Linked DNA regions of Homo sapiens. The protein of the gene in region 1 interacts with the protein of each later gene in a biochemical or structural test. Each region holds a gene or a part of one and is shown on either strand. Other genes may lie near its edges.

What was found.
Region 2: of the proteins of GRK5 (region 1) and SNCG, one has a biochemical effect on the other in vitro, tested with the Homo sapiens proteins (one study listed by BioGRID).

Annotation. Positions count from the first base shown.
Region 1 is NC_000010.11:119,209,052-119,218,562, reverse strand, and holds part of GRK5 (G protein-coupled receptor kinase 5), read right to left. Parts: intron 7,083-9,511; exon of another isoform or gene 5,859-7,082; intron 1-5,858. UniProt on the Homo sapiens protein: Serine/threonine kinase that phosphorylates preferentially the activated forms of a variety of G-protein-coupled receptors (GPCRs).
Region 2 is NC_000010.11:86,952,143-86,962,378, forward strand, and holds the start of SNCG (gamma-synuclein), read left to right. Parts: upstream 1-6,555; coding exon 6,556-6,676; intron 6,677-7,490; coding exon 7,491-7,532; intron 7,533-7,806; coding exon of another isoform or gene 7,807-7,858; coding exon 7,859-7,986; intron 7,987-10,236. Other genes in the region: MMRN2 (multimerin-2 precursor), read right to left, coding at 5,236-5,399. UniProt on the Homo sapiens protein: Plays a role in neurofilament network integrity. May be involved in modulating axonal architecture during development and in the adult. In vitro, increases the susceptibility of neurofilament-H to calcium-dependent proteases.

The DNA.
Region 1 (9,511 bases):
AAACATTAAGACCAAGCAGGACCCATTTCTGCATCAGCCACTTAAAGCTGTTCTTCCTGGGACATTTGTCGACCTTCTCCAGCTTGTTTCCATTTCAGAAGCAGTGCTAAGACCCATGCCAGGATGGAATTCCATTTTCAAATGAGGTTTCACAAGACTTTTTATCAGACTTGCAGAGCAATTACATTGGCTGGGTTCTCTCCATCCAGCAGTTGGGTAATTCTATCTCCTACCCCCTCCCCTTCCCTTCCTGGAGTGGGTAAGTTTAGAGCTACACCTTCTCTGCAGGAGCAGATCAAAAGCATGGCTTCCTGTACCCTCATCATCAGGGAGCGACACCAGGCTGCCTTCCCACCAGGATCTCAAGTCTGACTGTGGACCCCCAAGGAAGTGCATGGCTCTTATACACTCCCTTGCCTCACAAAGCCCCCTGAAAAGCAGAGTTGCAACATTAACGCAACACACACACACACACACACACACACACAAACGGGTTGACATGGTTTCTAAATGCAAACACTCAAGGTTACCACTGAAAAATGGCAAGGGGTCATCCGGAGAGAGCTTTTCTGGGGGAAAAGGCCACTTCATACCCTCTCTTTGGTGAGGGGGTGGGGATGCCCTGCAATCTGCAAGAAAAACCCTCCTCGCCTCCCCCTCTCTAACCCCCTACTTGGGTAGTAAGTAAAGAGAGCTGCAGAAACCTGAGCCTGCACATAAGGTACCACTGTCAGGCAGAGGTAACTGAGGGCGAGAACCTCCTAAGGAGCAGTAAGCGGCCAGGGAAGCAGGGTGCAGGGCAGATGGGAGCTATGTGTGGTGAGCCAGCAGGAACTGGCATGCCCGCTGCCCACCTCTTGCCTCTGCCAAGGAAAGGAGGTGGTGCTGCTGCCAATGATGTGGCCCACACCTAAACTCCCATGACTGTCCCCACCACCACCACCCATGGGGCTTCACATCCAGTCCCTTGGGGGCAATTCGTTGGCCACTAGCCATGCTGAGGGGAAAAATAACGCAAGAGGCTGGCCTCGCTTGTCCGATGTGTTGGTAGGAGGGGCCCAGGCAGCGAGAGAGTACAGGTAATGGGCCTCCACAGGCGATCATACCACATACGTACACATGTGCTTATGTGTGTACAGGCACTTATGTATGGCATGTAGGCATCCTGCCTTGTCCTCAAACACAGATTCAGTTGTATTGATACACAGTTCTACTTTTAAAATGGAAACATCTACTTTGAGGATTCACCTATCAGTCATTTACAACCTAGTAGGAATTAATTTACCCAACTGCTCTCAAACTGGCCCTCAGCTGAAATCACGGTCTGAGACAGAAATTATATTCCCAATTTGCCCCTTTTCCCAGGGAATCTGACAAAGACACTCTTTCTCTTCCACAATTACAACCTCATGGGTATTTACACTTAAAAACCCTACCATCTCGAGAAGAGTTTGTTGTTTTGGCATATATTATGAGAGGAAGGAAGAAAGATTTATTTTGGAACATAAAAGCACTTTGGAGGATAGGGGAGATCCACTTGCAATTGCTCCCCAAAAGTCCACAGTTCAAGTGACCTTGAACAAGTGACTCCCTTTTTTTATTTTTATGTTTTTTTTTAAATTATTATTTTACCTTTTAGACGGAGTTTCGCTGTTACCCAGGCTGGAGTGCAGTGGCACTCCCAGGTTCAAACAATTCTCCTGCCTCAGTCTCCCAAGTAGCTGGGATTATTATAGGCACCCACCACCACATCCAGGTAATTTTGTATTTTTAGTAGAGATGGGTTTTCACCACGGTGGTCAGGCTGATCTTGAACTCCTGACCGCAAGTGATCCACACACCTTGGCCTCCCAAAGTGCTGGGATTACAGGCGTGAGCCACCACGCCTGGCCATTTTTATTTATTTTTTATTTTTTGTAGAGATAGGGGTCTTGCTATGCTGCCCACGCTGGTCTTGAACTCCTGGCCTCAAGCAATCCTCCTGCCTCAGCCTCCCAAAATGCTGGGATTACAGGCGTGAGCCACTGCACCCGGCCCTGACTCCCTTTCTTTCATCTCAGTTTCCCCATCCGTTAAACCAAGGGTAACCTCTATGCCGGAAACAGAGGACAGGGCAGCAGATCAGCTGAGAAGGCTCAGGGAAGCCGAGGCACCAGTGGCCCTGTGGCCTCTGCCACTTCAGGACAGAGGCATGTTCTTATCTGTTTATCTCAGCTTATCTGTTTACCCTTGCTTTCTGCACAGGCCCCAGAAGCTGTCCTTGGGGTTCATTTCATCATTACCTTTTTAAAAAAATTTTTGATATTCCACAGATTACAAGTTCTTAGAAACACAGTAGGCCCTATCAAAACTGGCCTAGTTTAGGAGGATGTCACCAGTTGACTCTGGTACGTCAGATAGACTCCCTTGCTTCGGACACCAGGGAACAAGCAATGAACTGTTTTATTGTTTCAAACACTTTCTTTCTAAGTGTGCTCTGAGTTATTGTTAAAATGTTTCAAATCTCACAAGAAACAGTTTTTAAGGAGAAAACCATTTTCAAGTGGATACAAGAACAGTGAGTTTCTTTGGCATCTTTAAGTATACCTTCTTCCTGATGTCTTCCCAGCTCAGAAAAAATGAAAACCCTTAAAATGGTTTTGCCTGTCTTCACCCCCATTTTAGATCACCTGCCTGTGGAGGTTTCTTTCTATTCTTTCTGTAGATCTGCCGCACTTATGCAACTTAATTGTTTTTTTAAATAAAATGACTGCTTTAAAATAGCCCCACATTAAGAATTTCAAGAAGGAACATGGGGCTCTGTATGTATCTATATCATGCACTTAATTTGAATCAGGAAAGTCAGTTGCTCAATTTAGGCAAATTTCCCAACAAGATATTGAAAAAGGGGGTGGGGGAGGATATGGTAGCTTAACCCCCTCCACCCCCGCCACCATCCATGATTGTCCCTGACCTGAATTTCCTCTTAGGTGAGTCAGTCCCAACTCCCAACCCCTGCCTTCACCCCTCCTCCATGGTGCAGCCCCCTCCCCTTCCTCAGTCTCTTCCTCACTCTCCGCACCCCCTTCCCTATTTTCTCCTTCTCCTACCCATTTCCCCCTCTCATCTCTCCTTCTCCCCCTCCTCCACACTGTCTCTCTCCCCAACTCCCTGCCTCCCTCTGCTTCTTTTAATTTTCCCTAATTTTTCATGTCAGAAGTCATGGGGTTATCACACTCACTAAATGCACAGAATCCTCTAGAGAAGCTCTGTCCCGATGAGCTTTCTGCAATGATGGGAATGTTCTATATGCATGGCCCAATACAATGGCCACTAGCCACACATGGCTACTGAGCACTAGACATGTGGTTTGCATGCTTCAGGAACATAATTCCTAACTTTAATTAATTTAAGTATAAATAACAACATACAGCTAGTGGCTACTACGTTGAACAGAGCCCCTGAAGAGGAACAGGTACCTTTAATCTTTTCGGTCATTCCCTGTGACAGGCTATGTCAAAGGACATACCCAGGCCAATCCCAACAGAAAGCCAGAAAAGAATGCAGCCTCCACCGTCTTCACTCCAGAACTGCAGCCCGTCTACCCGCCCAGGCCTCTGCCCTGAACACCTGCTCTGCCTGGAAGGCGCCATGGCACACCAGTTTTCCTCTTGGATCTTGTCATTCCTCAACCAAAGGGTCTTCTTGCCATTGTTTTTAATGGTTTCCATTTCTAGGAACAGACCTTCATAAAAACAGTGTTGGCCGGGCGTGGTGGCTCACACCTGTAGTCCCAACATTTTGGGAGGCCAAGGTGGATGGATTGCTTGAGCCCAGGAGTTTAGAGACCAACCTGGGCAACAGGGCGAAACCCCATCTCTACAAAAAATACAAAAATTAGCCAGGCATGTTGGCACGAGCCTATAGTCCCAGCTACTCAGGAGGCTGAGGTGGGAGGATCACTTGAGCCCAGGAGGTCGAAGTTGCAGTGAGCTGAGATGGCACCACTGCACTACAGACTGGGTGACAGCAAGACCCTGTCTCAAAAAACAAAACAAAACAAAAACCCCTCAGTGCCCCAGAAAATTAGCAGTTGTCTTCCAGATTCAGGTCTATCCCTCAAGTATAACCTTTTAATTATGCTTAAATCACATACTGGTCCCTCAGGCCATTGTCCAAATTCTAGGCACAGTAGAGTCAATGCAGTCTACACAGCTAAGGAGGTCACACCCCAGTCAGCCTCAGCTCTTCGGGGAAAAAAATCCAGTTCTGTTCACACCTAGTTGATCAGTTAAAAAACATCAAAAGAGACTGAGTGCAGTGGCTCATGCCTGTAATCCCAGCACTTTGAGAGGCCAAGGCAGGCAGATCACCTGAGGCCAGGAGTTTGAGACCAGCCTGGCCAACATGGCGAAACCCCGCCTCTACTAAAAATACAAAAATTAGCCAGGCTTGATGGTGGGCGCCTGTAATCCCAGCTACTCAGGAGGCTGAGGCAGGAGAATCGCTTGAACCTGGGAGGCAGAGGTTGCAGTGAGCCCAGACTGCGCCACTGCAGTCTAGCCTGCGCGACAGAGCAGACTCTGTCTCAAAACAAAACAAAAAACAAACAAAAAAACATGTAAAAAGAGAACGGCAGTGCCCAATTGCATCTTTTCAGTCATTTCACATTGTATTATCTGAGGCTGACACCCGAATGTCACCTCCGCACTGGGTCCTTCAACAACCAAATGCTGAACAAATAAATTTTACTCTTGTAAGATTTTCAGAAGCCTATTCAAGAATGGTTTCCTCAAAATGAGAAGCAGGGGTGGGGGAAGGGTCCAGTCAGGAAGTAAGGACTTTCTCTTTTAAAAGCAGCACAGTTTTCACAAAATGAAATGCTTCTTCCAGTTTTTGGATGGTAATAAAAGGAATGACATTATCTCTGCCCCCCCAAAATACATCTTTTCAATATTTAGAATATTTTTAAATAAAAATTTTCACTGAAATATAACAGGATATGTTTTAAAGTGGAAATCAACCCTATTATTTAAGGCCATAATACATTTTAATTTTTTATTTTTCTTTTTTGAAACAGAGTCTTACTCTGTCACCCAGTCCGGAGTACGGTGGTGCAATACTGGCTCACTGCAATCTCCACCTCCCAGGTTCAAGTGATTCTCCTGCCTCAGCTTTCCGAGTAGCTGGGATTACATGCGGGCACCACCACACCCCGCTGATTTTTGTATTTTTAGTAGAGACAGGATTTCACCATGTTGGCCAGGCTGATCTCAATCTCCTGACCTCAGGTGATCCGCCTGCCTCGGCCTCCCAAAGTGCTGGGATTACAGACATGAGCCACCATGCCCAGACCATTTTAGTCATTTAAAATCATGCCTTCATCCCCTTGTCTTCAATATTCTCTTCTATTCCATTCATTTATTTATTTATTTTTAGAGACAGGGTCTTGTGTGTTGCCCAGGCTGGAGGGCAGTGGCTATGCACAGATGCAGTCCCACTGCTGATCAGCATGGAGTTTTTACCTGTTCTGTTTCCCACCAAGCCAGTTCACCCCTCCTTGGGCAACTTGGTGGTCCCCACTCCCGAAAGGTCACCATATTGATGCCGAGCTTACTGCAGATACCCAATAGGCATAGTTCGCTCCAGACCAGTACTCCTGGGCTCAAATGATCTTCCTCAGCCTCCAGAGTAGCTGGGACCACAGGCTGTGCCACCGCACTCGGCTCCACCATTCTATTTTGATGTGAGAAATGGGTGCTGAGGGCTGTATGATTGAGGAAATTCCTAATTATCTTCTCAATGTGTCACCTGTTGGTAGTCACTTTCTGTTTTCTCAAGTTTCACCTCTGAGTTGCATGACCTATGACAATAATGCCTTTTGGTAACCAGAAGACTTTTTTATTTCAAAAATGTCTAGACATTATAATGCTTTATCTTGCACTCCAAACATATTGGCAACAAATATTAACTTTGAATATTGCCCACAGTCCTGGATAGTTTTATTTAAAACATCCCAGATATGGATTGAATAGCCCTTGGTAAAGGTGAATTTGGTTAAACATTGAGCCCGCTCCTGAAATTCACTTGGGCATTCTGGAAGTCTTCAGCCCAGATCCAAAGGGTATCATTTAGCAAGCCACTATAAGAGTTATAGCTTCTGAAGACATAATTTAAACAAGGATTAGTTTGGGCACTGGAAGAGTCAAGCACTTTGGAGTTTAGAATCTGACAAGCAGCAGCTAAGCTACTGAAAGATGAGAGCCTTGTGGGCATTTATCTGATGGTTTTTCAAACAGGCAGCCAGATTAACTACAATCATCGTTTGAAATCTTTAAGAAAGCAAAAGGCCTTCTGAAAACATTGCTTTTGGTTTCTCTACCTCCAAGTTGTCAGTACTGAAAAGGAAACTTTAAAAAAAAAAAAAGAAAGGCAGTTTGATTTAACGGCATTGTGTTTAACAGGCCAGGCTGCTTTTACACACACCGAGCTGCCTTAACCAGGATGAAAGCTGTCGCTTGGTAAGATTAACATTAAAATTGAAGGAGAAGCTTCAGGGTGGAGTACGTATGCCTCCACGTATGCCTTCACATAGCCATAAGAGGGCTTTGAGCTTCAGAGATGTTCCAACGTTCTAATAACCTAATTCACCATGTTTTGGTTTTATCACCATGAATTAGGGGTGCAAGGGAAAGAGGTCCAGGGCTTTCAGCCGTGCTGTGGAATGTTAAGTCTGTCCACGCCATAGCCTGCCCCACGCAGAGCTGGATGCTGGCTCACTCCTTCTTCCTGCCCTCCCTAACCTCTTCCAGGCCCCGAGGTGCTAATCTTGATGATCAGGAAGATCCAGCCAAGTCACAGAGTTACCTGAAAAAACGGTTCCTGTGTATTCTAATGTTTGGCAATTGTGACAAATGACAAAGTTGTTCCAGTCCTAACTTCTCAATTCCTGTGCTTGCTAGGGCCTCAGGAAAATGTGATCAATATTCCTTCAGGTATCTTTTTTGATCAGATATGGCTACTGCTGGCCTGTGAAGAAAGGAAAAGCGGGGCCTTGCAAAATTTTTTCTCACCACTGTTCACTCAGAAGAAAGGCAACAGATCTAGAAGATGAGAAAAACACAAAAACCTTTACTGCAACAATAAAACCAAAAAGAAACACACAAAAGGCACTCAGCAAACTCTCCTTCTCATTATTATTTCAACATTAGGTCGCCTGCCAATTTTCTGAGATTCTGAAATGTAAATAAATAGATAGAGTTAGTCTGGGCCTCTTTTTCATGAAATGCTTAATCACTTAGCTCATTCCCATAAATTGCCATGAATTCAGTCTCAACTTCTTTCTTTTTTTCCTTAAGCACTTTTTAGGAGAGCAATCTAAAGTTCCTAAGAGTGATCGAGTTGATGTTTTCTCATGAGACCCAGGACAAATAAACAGGCCCCAAAATACATTTCCGTGGTTCAAAATCTTGAACCCATACCTCTACCTTTTCTTATTTTAAAATAATTATCACAAGTGTTCATGAAGCTTGCTTGCTATATTTTCTAATTACTAACAATCCATCATTTTACTCTAATCCACTTACAGGCTTTCTATTTTATTGCTACATTAATGCTTTCCACTTTATATTATGTCTTATTACGGTAAGACTTTGAAGATACAGTGAATTTAGGAGCCATCTGTCTTTAATGCAAAACAAAAAGAAAAGATAGGTCCCAGTGTTACCCACCAACATGGACAACTACAAATTATTTTACAGCATTTTCAAAGTGTGCCTGTCTTTCTTCAAGGTCTGTTTCTCTATTGTTTGGGACAAATGTGACTTTTACTTGAAAGCCAAATTTTAAATTGCTTACGGTGTATTTTGTTAAGTGAACTAAATTAAATTTCACATTTGCCAATTATATTTCTCATCTGTAACCACTGACAAGAATCTTTAAGAAGTGTTTTTAAACCTTTTAAACAACTCAGATTTTTTTAATATACTGTTTTATATTAGATATTTCACTAAACTGACTGAAGATTTCATTTCTGAATATTTAGATAATATGGTTATTTGGAGAACTACTAAGTTTAGTAAAATAAATTCAAATATATGAGAACTGAGAAGAGAAACATAAATTGCTTTAATTTCTAAAAGTGTCCACACTAATTAGGATATATGGGCTCAAGTCTCTAATAAAGGCCCAGCCAAAAGAAACTGGAAGCACTTAAAATCATGGCTTTCCTCTAGGCATAAGAGAGAAAGAAGGGGAGAGATGCAAATTGTAAATGAGGTTTCCATTAAATGATTAATTTTTCTTGTTCACGTGTCAGTCTCTCCCTGCTTCCGCAGGCCCTCTCCATTTCCAAGGCATCATCAAGAGCTATTTTCTCACCATGAGATGACGACCAAACTCTCACAGCAAAATTGAAAAAGCCTTTAAAAGGAAAAAAAAAAGTGAAAGGCACATTCTTGAGCACTTTCAATCACTGTAATTCTGCCCCAATGGGAGTCGGTCACTCCACACAAGCTTCCAGCCTGCAGCTCTCTTCTCCAAGGCTCTGGGAAAAAAACCCAATTTGTTGGCCTAACGAACAACAATATCAGACAGTAAATTCACGTTGGTGAAAAAATACTGGGGAGAACAATTTGGAGGGGGCGGGTGGAATTGATATCACTTTGCCCACTCTAAGCAAAGCATTATAAAAGAAGCAACCAAATGCTCAGGGAAGAAAAAAAGCATCTATCAGGCAAACAAATATCTACAGCAGCAAATGTCGGGGGCAGATTCCCTGGGCAACAGGAGGAACCAGCGAAACTTGCAAGGCTCCAGTACCATCAGACCCAGTGATTTCCCAAGAAATAATTTCAGAATGGAGCGAGAGTGAAAACTTTCCCAGCCCCCGAATCCTGAGATACACAACCGTGTCCCACCACTAGGTGGCCAGCTGCAAAGGCTGAAAGAGGGGCGGGGGAGGTGGAGGGCTGTTTTCTCTGCTTCCTCCCTTTCAGGACCATTCCCCAACCCAGAGGAGAGCCTACCAGCACCCACCTAGATCCTGTCCACTAAAAATGTCAGGTTAGGAAAAAAAAAAAAAAAAAAAAAAAAAAACCACACACACACACACAGCTCAGGCCTTAGAACCTGAAGTCACCAAGTAACAAGCCTCTCCTAAAAATTTATTCCCACCAAAGCTAAGCAATGGGAGGGAGACTAACCTGAATATTTTAAACTCTGCTGGGGTTTTCAAAGCACTGCCTCCCTTCGGGGCTTCTGAAATAAACCTTCTTGCCCACTGGCTGCTTTAGAGTGACAAGTGACGACGAAAGTAAGACACGAATGCCGGGTTGAGTTGCTGAAACGCTGCCCACGGAAGGCTATGCATCACCTACCCCCACAGTGTGTAGGGAGCCACAAGGTGATGGAACGGGCTGAATAAACACGAATCGTTTTATTGCTGGCCAGAAATTCTTCCCTTCATTCATCAAAGTAGGTGAATGAAAATATTAAGCAGGTAAGACATTTTCATGGGCTGCTCACCGAGTAT
Region 2 (10,236 bases), about 32 Mb from region 1:
GTTGGCTCAGGATTCGATATGCCAGCCAGTGGGAACAGAGACCAGGAAGGGGCCAGTGCATCTCCAAGGGATCAGTCAACGTAAAAAGGGGACACCTCACGATAAGGATGGAAGGAAGGAAGGAATGCTCACTCAACACTGAAACAGAGAGCTGGGAAGGCGCTGGCCCCAGAGCTCAGGAGCCACAGGTGTCATGCTTGCCTGCACAGACATCCACCTGGGGCCCCATGGAAACTCCTGGAACATGGGCTCAGTATTGGGGGAACCCACTCCCAATATTTCAACATACATTCTTTCTATTTTCCCTAAGTGTCGACTGGTCTGAGAAATAAAGAGAAAGAGTTCAAAGAGAGGAATTTTACAGCTGGGCCTCCAGGTGTGACATCACCTATCGGTAGGACTGTGATGCCCACCTGAGCCGCAAAACCAGCAGGTTTTTATTAAGGACTTCAAAAGGGGAGGGGGTGTATGAACAGGGAGTAGGTCACATGCTTTAAGGGGCAAAAAGCAGAGCAAAGATCATATGCTTCTGAGGAAACGGGGCAAGGACAAAATCAAAAACTCCGATAAGGGTCTACGTTCAGTGGTTCCATGTATTGTCTTGATAAACATCTTAACAGAAAACAGGGTTTGAGAGCAGAGAACCAGTTTGATCTCAAATTTACCAGGGCTGGGGTTTCTCAATCCTGGTAAGCCTGAGGGTACTGCAGGAGACCAGGGCATATCTCAGTCCTTATCACAACCGCATAGGACAGACACTCCCAGAGCGGCCGTTTATAGACCTCCCCGCAGGAATGTAATTCTTTTCCTAGGGTCTTAATATTATATTCCTTGCTAGGAAAAGAATTTAGCGATATCTCTCCTACTTGCATATCCGTTTATAGGCTCTCTGCAAGAAGAAAAATATGGCTCCTTTTGCCCGACCCCGCAGGCAGTTAGACCTTATGGTTGTCTTCCCTTGTTCCCTAAAATCGCTGTTATTCTGTTCATTTTCAAGGTGCACTGATATCATATTATTAAAACACACGTTTTACAATCAATTTGTACAGTTAACGCAAAATCACAGGGTCCTGAGGTGATGTACATCCTCAGCTTATGAAGATAACAGGATTAAGAGATTAAAGCAAGACAGGCATAAGAAATTATGAGTATTATTAGGGAAGTGATAAATGTCCATATTAAAATGAAATCTTCACAATTTATGTTCAGAGATTGCAGTAAAGACAGGTGTAAGAAATTATAAGAGTATTAATTTTGGGAACTGATATATGCCCATATTAAAATGAAATCTTCACAATTTATGTTCCTCTGCCGCGGCTCCAGCCTGTCCCTCCGTTCAGGGTCCCTGACTTCCCGCAACAGCTCAGCCCTAGGGAAAAATCTCTCTTAGACCAGTGGTTCTCAATGGGAGGAGAGGGTACTTTCCCCAGGTGCATTGTCACGACTGGGTGGTGGGTGCTACTCATGACTAGGTATCTCATGGGTGGGGCCCAAAGATGCTGCCAAATACCCTACAATGCATAGGACATCTCCACACCCCACCACAAGGAATTATCTAGTCCAAAATGTCAGTATGCCAGGGCTGAGAAACTCTCTCTAAACAAACTTCCATTCCTTGCAAACCTCTGACCTACTGCAGAGGGCCTGGAAGGCGTGTGCCCCAGGCACGCCTGGCCTGGTCCAGCCTGCCAGGAGTGACTGGGACTTTCCACCTCAAGCTCCTGGAAGTGGAAACTATGCCGCCCACCCTTCCTGCCCAGGAACTTTCTCCGCTGACCTGCCCAGACCCTGGGCTTCAGCACTGCTATTCTCTCTGCCCATGCTCCCCACCCTGGGCAGGCCCTCCCTTGGCACAGTACAGGCTGCTGGCCCAGAACCCTGGGAACATTCCTGACCTTTGCTTTGGCTTCCTCCAGCTCTTGGCAGCTTCTGGCTGGCCCTTGATGCCCATGCCCCCGGCCCAACTTGCTGAAGTGCCCATTTTTCCCTCTGCCCCTCCGTCTCAGGCTGGCTTCATCTTTGTGCCCTCCCTTGGGGAGTCCTGCTGGGTGCCCTCATCTCCCAGTGGCCAACCCAGAGTGGATGTGGGGCTCCTCTGGCCTGGTTTGGAGCTGCCCTTGGTCTGCTGTGGCCCCAACCTGCTGCTCCACCCAGATAGGAGGGTACGTGGACTCCTTTGGAGCTTTAAATGGAAGCTGGGCGGCCTGCGTTCTCCTCTCCTCCTCCTCCCTGAACCCACAGTGACCTTGGGCAAGGCCCTTCCCCCATCATCGAAATGCGAAGAAGCTGTGCCTCTGCGGCACACAGATCAGAGCTGGTGTGGGGGGAAGGGAGAGGGAGCCTGTGGGAGGGGGAGGGCGCATCCATTATGCAGATTGTGTGGAGTGCCTTCCCTTCCCCAGCCAGGAAACGCCCTCCCAGGGGCCCTCAAGTCTTCCTTGGGAAGGAAGGCGTGTTCTCAGCAGCCTTGTTTTCTGAGGCCCTGAAGCCAGCCATTAACTTGACCATTCCAGGGGAGAAACTCACAGGATTTTGTCCTTGAGTCAGAAAAGGGCCTTGGCAGAGAAGCCTGAGGCTCTCAGGGATCAGCCCAGAGCTAAGAACCCCTGAGCGTGGTTCTGGAAGCTTCAGCTCTGGCCAGTGGGGGTTCTTCCCTGTTCATACCAAGGGCTCTGTGCCCGGCAGGGGTCGGGGGTGGGGGTGAGGATGGGGGAGGAACAAGTGCAAAAGGTGCATCGTGGCCCAGAGAAGGCGGCCTGTGCTCTGCCCTGCTCCTGTGTGACCTCCAGTCATATGCTGGACTCCTCTGGGCCACAAGCTCCCAGCTGGGAAAATCTCAGTGCTCTTTGTGTAAGGGTCAGGAGAAGCCTGAGGCTGGTGACTGGGGCCAACCAGCCTGCTGGCAGCAGCATCCCCTACACGGCCACCCTCTTGGGGGGACAGGACAGCCTGGGTGGGCCTGGGCTCTCACTGTCACTTAGGAGCTCTGTGGCCCTGGGAGGCGTCCCCACCCCTCCAAGCTATCATAGCAATGTGATAGATGGGACACCTTGCCTGGGGCTCAGCACGGTCCCTACCGCAGACTGAGTTCCACTGGGACAGCAAATCCTGGGTCTGAGGCACCCACATTCTAGACATCCCCAAGCCAGGGCACAGAAACAGCCTCTTCCTCCCGGAGTCCTAATGCTCAGGCTGCTGGCTCCCTGGGCTGGGCCCCTCGGGGTCCCTGGCAACCTAAGAAGCAGTTAACCCCTTCGCTTCTCCACCTCAGGGAAGTCTGAGGACGTAGTGGTTCTATTCAAGCTTCTCCTTGCAAAGGGTCTTATTGGGGCCTGCATCCTGGGCCCAGCCTAGCCCTGGGGCTCTGGAAACAGATGTAAGTGGCAAAGGCAGGGCAGAATGCCTGGCCCTGGCAGCCGAGCCTCCTTGTGATGGTGTTGGTGTCACCACCCCTGCTAGCAGAACCCAGTCTGCCTCCCCTTCCCATGCTGCAGGGACAGGGTCTGGAGCACGCTTCCACCTCCCTGGTCACAGGAGCAAGGGAAGTAATCAGCCCAGGAAGCCGCGCGTTTCCTTCCTTTCTCACCAGCCCATCCGGGTTTGGTGAGAGAGCATGGACTTGCCCTGTGGAGACTGCAGCTTCTGGATGTGGGAAGGAGAGCCCTGCAGGCAGGGGGCTTCCAGGCTTGGGACACCTGGGCATTCCTGGGCCAGGTACATGCACCCTCCCACTCAGAACCCCAGAGAAGGACTGCGGGGCCCCTGCAGGGCTGCCCATCAGCAGTTCCCAAACCCTCACTCCTTGGGGCTAAGGGAGCAATGTCTCTCCCACAACCAAGGGGGTGGGGAGGAAGAGGAGCAGCTCCCTCCTCCCTCCCGTCCACCGGGTCCTCTCATCCTCCCTTTCATCAAAAGGCGGAAGGTGGCCTGAGACTAAGGCGTGGAGCTTCCTTGGTCCTGAAATCAGAGCGGAGTGGCTGGATCCAGCCCGCCCCTCCCCCGCCCCCTGCTCCCCTTGCCGCCCCACCACCGAGAATCACCTGCACCTCCCAGCCCTGAGCAGAGTTGGGGGCAGGCGGGAATGAGGTTTCTCCATGGCCAACTGCTCAGCCACTGTTCCCCACGCCACTGCCACCAGACCCTCACTAAGGGGCCTCTTGCCCCTCCCTGGTCAAATCTGTTTTCAGGAAAGCACCCAACAAACCTGCAACTCAGAAGCCAAATGAGACCTATCCCAGGCAGGTCCGCTCTGCGATGGTGGCTCTCATACACCGCACAGAAGTGTAAGTTGGCCCCCCCCTCACTCCCTAAATCCATGTAGATGCCCTTAGCCAAACAGGTCTGGTGTGTGGGGGCAGGAGGGTGGAGGTAGGAGCATCTGGGGGCTGGGGCTGGCTCCAAGTGCTGCAGAGAGTTCACTATGAGCTCTGAAGTCAAACTCAGATCCTGCTCCTTAGCTGTGTGGCCTTGGGCAAGCCCCTCAGCCTCTCTGAGCCTCAGGCTCCTCCTCTGTAAGTGGGGCTGTTGGAGGGATGAACTGAGATACACGTGGCAAGGTGCCTGGCCCTGAGACTGGGGGCCCCGTAAACAGCACCTGCTGCTCTGACTGAGGGGCAGTTGGAGATGAGGGGGGACTTACAGGCCCAACACCTCATCAGCAGGATGGGCCCTGGCTCTGTACACATAGAATGTTGGAAAGCTATGTTCTGGGTCCAGTTGCAAGACCATCCTGCCCACTTGCTGGGTCGCTGAGGCAGAGCGCCCTGGACTGTGCTCTGGAGAGCAGGGGGCCGTCTCTGCTCACTGCTGGGCAGTCAGAGTCAGGTCCCCAGGGAACTCAGATCAAAATCTCAGGGCAGCCTTGCTGGGTCTCAGCTTTCAGAATTGATTTCTTTGGAAGAACAGGAGGCATAGCCAGGCCAGCTGGCAATGGCTTCAGCCACAGTCCCCCAGTGCCCCATGCTGGGTGATTGATGGTAGGAGCTGTGCCTCCCTGCCAGCCCCCCAAGCCCCATTCCCTGCCATGGCTCCGACAGGGAACTCCCTGCAATTCTTAGGTGGATCCTGAAACACCCAGTCCAGACTACTTTTTCAGCCTCACAGATGGCCCAGAGATAGATACTATTAGCCCATTTCACAGATGGGACCCCAGTGAGGTCTAGAGAGGCTCTGCTCTAGCTGAGCTGGGACTCAGATCCTACTCCATGACCTCTGCCAAGGTCCAGGCCCTCTTACCGTCCTACGGGGTCCTTGCCGGTGTCCTCAGCCTCTGCCTTCCAGACCCCAGGTGTCCTGGAGCTCTGCAGATCAGAGAGGCTAGTACTGGAAGCCTGGGCCCATGCCCCCAGCAGCCCCCAGCCCAGGGGGCCCCCAAGGCTGAACAGCAAGCTCAGGATCATCTTGGTGGTGGGGCAGGCTCAGCTCACACTCAGCCTTGGCAAGTAGCTCCAGAAACTGCTAGTGACGTTGTCTTCAAGTTAAATCTCAGGAGGAAAAGAAAATACGAGGACAACAAAGAGAGGAAGTGGCCTGGGCCGGCCTACCCGGTGGGTCTTGTCCTGCCCCCCAACTACCCTGGCTGGCCCCACAGGGGCCGCCAACCACACAAGCCAGTTCCTGTCCCTGAGGACTTGGCTCAGGGACTCTGGGAATGTGGTAGACATGGGGTGGCCCCACCAAATGCATCCTTATGGGAACCTGCTCCCTGGGAGCCATGAAAAGAGCGTGGACTTCGAGGTGGGGCCACAGGAAGTGGTCAGGTCCATCTCAGGGGACCTGCTGCCCATCCACACTGCTGGCCAGGAAATGGGGGGCAATTCATGCCTCCTCAGCACCTTCAGCACTGGGCGGCTCAAAGAAGGGAAGGGACTATTCTGGGGTCACACAGCATGCAGCCAGAGGCCAAGGCATGAGGAAGTCCTTCATTTCCCCACCCCCACCCACCTCAGATCCTCCAACCGGTTTCATGGCAGCCCAGGGTCCAGCGGCATCCAGGATGCTGGTGGGTAGCTGCACAGCCCAGGCCGCGGGAGGTTGGCTGCTCTCACCTAACAGGCCTATGTGGCCCTGACCCCTACCTAGGAAGCTGGGGACAATGGCCAAGGCGCCTCCCCTCTCTGTGCCTGTCTGTCCAGGTGCAGCATAGACACAGCACCCCTGGGGCCAAGAGCACCCAGCCAGGGCTGCCCCCATGGGTGGGCAGGGCAGTAAATGAATGAGGGACAGGTTGGGAGGTGGCCAGCCCCCTCCAGCCCATGGAGGGCACGGGGCAGGAGAGCTGGGCTGAGCCAGCAGGAGCCCAGGGAGCCTGGTCTCTGCCTTCCTATCCTGGAGGAAGGTGAGGCTGAACCTCCTTCCCTCCCTCCCTCCCTCCCCGCCCCCACTGCACGCAGGGCTGGCTGGGCTCCAGCTGGCCTCCGCATCAATATTTCATCGGCGTCAATAGGAGGCATCGGGGACAGCCGCTGCGGCAGCACTCGAGCCAGCTCAAGCCCGCAGCTCGCAGGGAGATCCAGCTCCGTCCTGCCTGCAGCAGCACAACCCTGCACACCCACCATGGATGTCTTCAAGAAGGGCTTCTCCATCGCCAAGGAGGGCGTGGTGGGTGCGGTGGAAAAGACCAAGCAGGGGGTGACGGAAGCAGCTGAGAAGACCAAGGAGGGGGTCATGTATGTGGGTAAGTGGGGCATGGCAGGGTGGGACAGTGTGGTGGCCAAAGGGTGAGTGCCCAGTTACCTTCGCCAGACCTTACTCCCCAGCCCCAGGGAGGCATTTTGGGAGGGGGCGAGGCCCTGGCTATCAAGGTGGGGTCTCCAGACCCTGGAGCACCCACAATGCCCTGTGCACACCTATGTGTGTTTGTCTTTGGCCTCCTCGGGGCCTCTGGGTGTCAGAGACCGCAGACAGGGCTGGCTACCTGTCTGTGCACGCACACACACATTCCCAAGCATACCAGCCTCCCCTGAGCCTGGAGCCCCTGAAGCCATGAGCAGCCTGTGCTCAGGTGGCCCCCACCCTCTCCACACGGGAGCGGCTACAGCCAGGTCACGGATCCCCTCCCTCCCCAGAGAGAAGGGGCAGGCTGGGGGATGAAACCTAGGCTCAGTGTTCCCTCCCCCGCATCCTCTCCTGGCACTCTCCAGAGGAGGAAGGGGAGGTCAAGCCAATGACTCAGCTCTGGCCCATCCTGTCCTGTTGCTGCTTCTGAGGCCCGGCCACACCCGGGCAGGGGCTGGACCCTGGGTCTAGCCAGTGTCCCTACCTCAGGCCTGCTCTCTCTTGTCCCCCACATTCTGTCCTGTCCCCTTCCCATCCATCCACTTCTTCCAGACACAGCAGGAAGAGGCCCTCTGAAGGGGCCGCCGGCCCCCAGACACCATCCTTACCCCCCCACCGACCCCACAGTTTGTCCAGCTGTTCTGTTGTGTTTGTCCTGACCGCCCCCAACACCTCGAGGGAGGTCTGGGCTGACAGCTCCATTTCCTCCCCAGGAGCCAAGACCAAGGAGAATGTTGTACAGAGCGTGACCTCAGGTGAGAAGCCCCAGGGCCAGGGGACACATGGGGGATAGGACCCCTGGGGCTCCTGCATCCTAGTGCTGGGGCTCAAACCTAGAGTCCTGCCTTACCCCCAACTGGGGTCCCAAGCCCTACAGACCCCTGCAGACCATGAGGCTAAACTAGGGTGGGCGTCTCCTTACCCCCACCAGCATCAGAGGTGCCCTGGAGTCAGAGGGAGCAGGGGAGGGTCCCAGCAGGGCCAGGGCTCTGAGCTCCTGGGAAGGGGCTGCGAGCCTGACTCCAGCAGGCCTGCCTTGGGGCTGGGGCTGGGGTGGAGGCCAGCCAGTGTCCTCCCATAGTGGCCGAGAAGACCAAGGAGCAGGCCAACGCCGTGAGCGAGGCTGTGGTGAGCAGCGTCAACACTGTGGCCACCAAGACCGTGGAGGAGGCGGAGAACATCGCGGTCACCTCCGGGGTGGTGCGCAAGGTGAGCCCCGGCCCTCAGACCTGCCCAGTCCTCTCCTGGGCCCAGAAAGGCTGCTGGGCGGAGGCGGCATCACTCCACTCCACACCCCAGGAAACAACACGGGGGGCTGCGGCTGGCTTCAGTTTCAGTACCCACTGAGCGCCGGCATGGGGTGGGGTCCATGCTTGCTGTTCGACCTGCATTCGGGTCTGGAATCACCACAACCACCCCTTCGGGGGACTTGGGAGCCCATCTCATAGACAAGGAAAGTGAGGCTCAAAACCACATCTTCCGGACGGCTCTCAGCACTTAGGAGACACCCCATTTTATAAGTGAAAACAGGATCCCACACGGTGACAGGCAGCCTCCCGGGCAGTGGTCACCAGGCCGGGGGCTGAGTAGCACCAGCCCCGCCCCCAGGGCCTAGCCTCCCTCCCTGGGCTGGGCGGGGCAGCTGCCTCCTGCTGGGAGCCTCAGGGAAGTAGCGTCCCCTAGTGGTAAGAAAGCAGTGCTGCTTCTGACCCTACCCTCTGCAGCTGCCTTTGTGTGTGTGTGCACGTGTGTTGAGTGAGCATGTGGGTGCATTTGTGAGAATGTGTGGGTGTACATGCGTGTGAATGTACACATGCGTGTGCGGCCCAATAGCAGACAGCACAGGAGCAGTGGGGCGCACCCCAGGGACGGGTGTTGGCTGGGTGAGCTGTCCCAGCACCTGTGACACAGCAAGCTCTGCTTTACGCATTGTACGCTTATTAGTTCATTTAATAGACACAAAATCCATGAGACGGTGTGGAAACTAAGGCCCAGAGAGATTAATGTGCCCAAGGTCCCATGGCTAGTTCATGTGAGCTTGGAATTCCCCTGAGCAGCCTGTACTCTGAGAGACCCTGTGGCAGTGTAAGTGGTGGCCTGGGCTAGGATTCCTACCTGGGGGTGGGGCGGGGGAGCAGTGTCCAGCTCTCCTACCTGCTCCAGGCCTCCTAGGTGGTGGAGTCTGAGGCTCTGAGCACTGAGAATCCCTGCGTTAGGAGTGGGTGGGTGGAAGGGTGGGGGCTGCCCTACTCCTCTTGGCTCTGGGGCGATGCCCAGGTGTCTGCTTCCAGGGCCAGCACAGGGTCTCCATGTCCTTGGAGCTGGCAGCCGCTCCCTCTCCTAGTTCCCCTTTCTCGTCGTATGACCTTGAGAAGCAAAGGAACCTCTCTGGGCCTCCGTGTTCTCATCTGCAAGATGGGGGTGAGAGTGTCGGCCTCCCTGGGCTGTGTGATGAGGCAGGGCCATGACCTCCATGAAGCAATTCTCCTGGTCTATGTGAGCACCCAGCAGAGGAAGGTGACCATCATCATCATCATCATCATGTGTCCCAGGCAGAACACATAGAGCCCCAGGGGGCTCCTCCCTCCTCACCCCCAGCAAAAGAGGCCCTGGGGTGAGGGTGCCCGGGCATTCCTTGTGAATCCCGGAGCAGGGCTAGTGAGCCCTTGGAGCCACCTCGAGGGAGACTCATTTCCTGGTGACACCCCAAAACCAGTCACGACTCATCTCCCAGTGAACTGTGAAAGGCCTCAGCAGGGACTATCTGACCACTCATACCCCTGGCCTCATCATCAGCCTTAGGGCAGCAGGACTCAGCAGGTGGCCACCTGCCCTGCCCCTGGATAGCCTGGCCGACTCCCGCCAGCACAGCACTGCCCTTTTATGCCCCACTCCGCCAAGGGGCAGGATGGCCCTGGGGCAACACAGAGGTGACAGTATCCCCGCCTCCCCCCCGTCCCCCGCCAGAGGCAGGTGCTGAGGCCAGAGTGCAGGGCAATCACCAGTGTGGTCCTACACACCCAGCTGTCATGATATCTCACGCAAGTGTCTGGCCGGCATGGAGTGCAGGAGATAGAAGATGGGAAGTGAGAGAGGACTGTGTAACCTCTGCTGGCCCTGACCAGCCTGAGCCCAGAGCCTGTCCAGGAGGCAAAGAGAGGGAGCCATGCTCCTGTGGACTGAAGTGGGCCTGAAGCAAGCCTGATCTGATGCCAACACACCCCACCACTTTGAGCTCGAAGGCCCTGAGCTGCATGCCAAGCCTCCCTGGCCTCAGAGTCCCTATGTGAACCCCAATCAGTCTTCCTTGTAGGGCTACTGAGGGTGGGGTCAGACCTGGGGCTTCAGGGGCCTCTGCCCACTCTAACCCCCACTCCACCCTACCCCACCCAGGTTCCTCATCAGTGAAGCCCAACTAGGGGCTTCCCAGAGACTGGGGACCAGCTTGAGGGGTGAAGC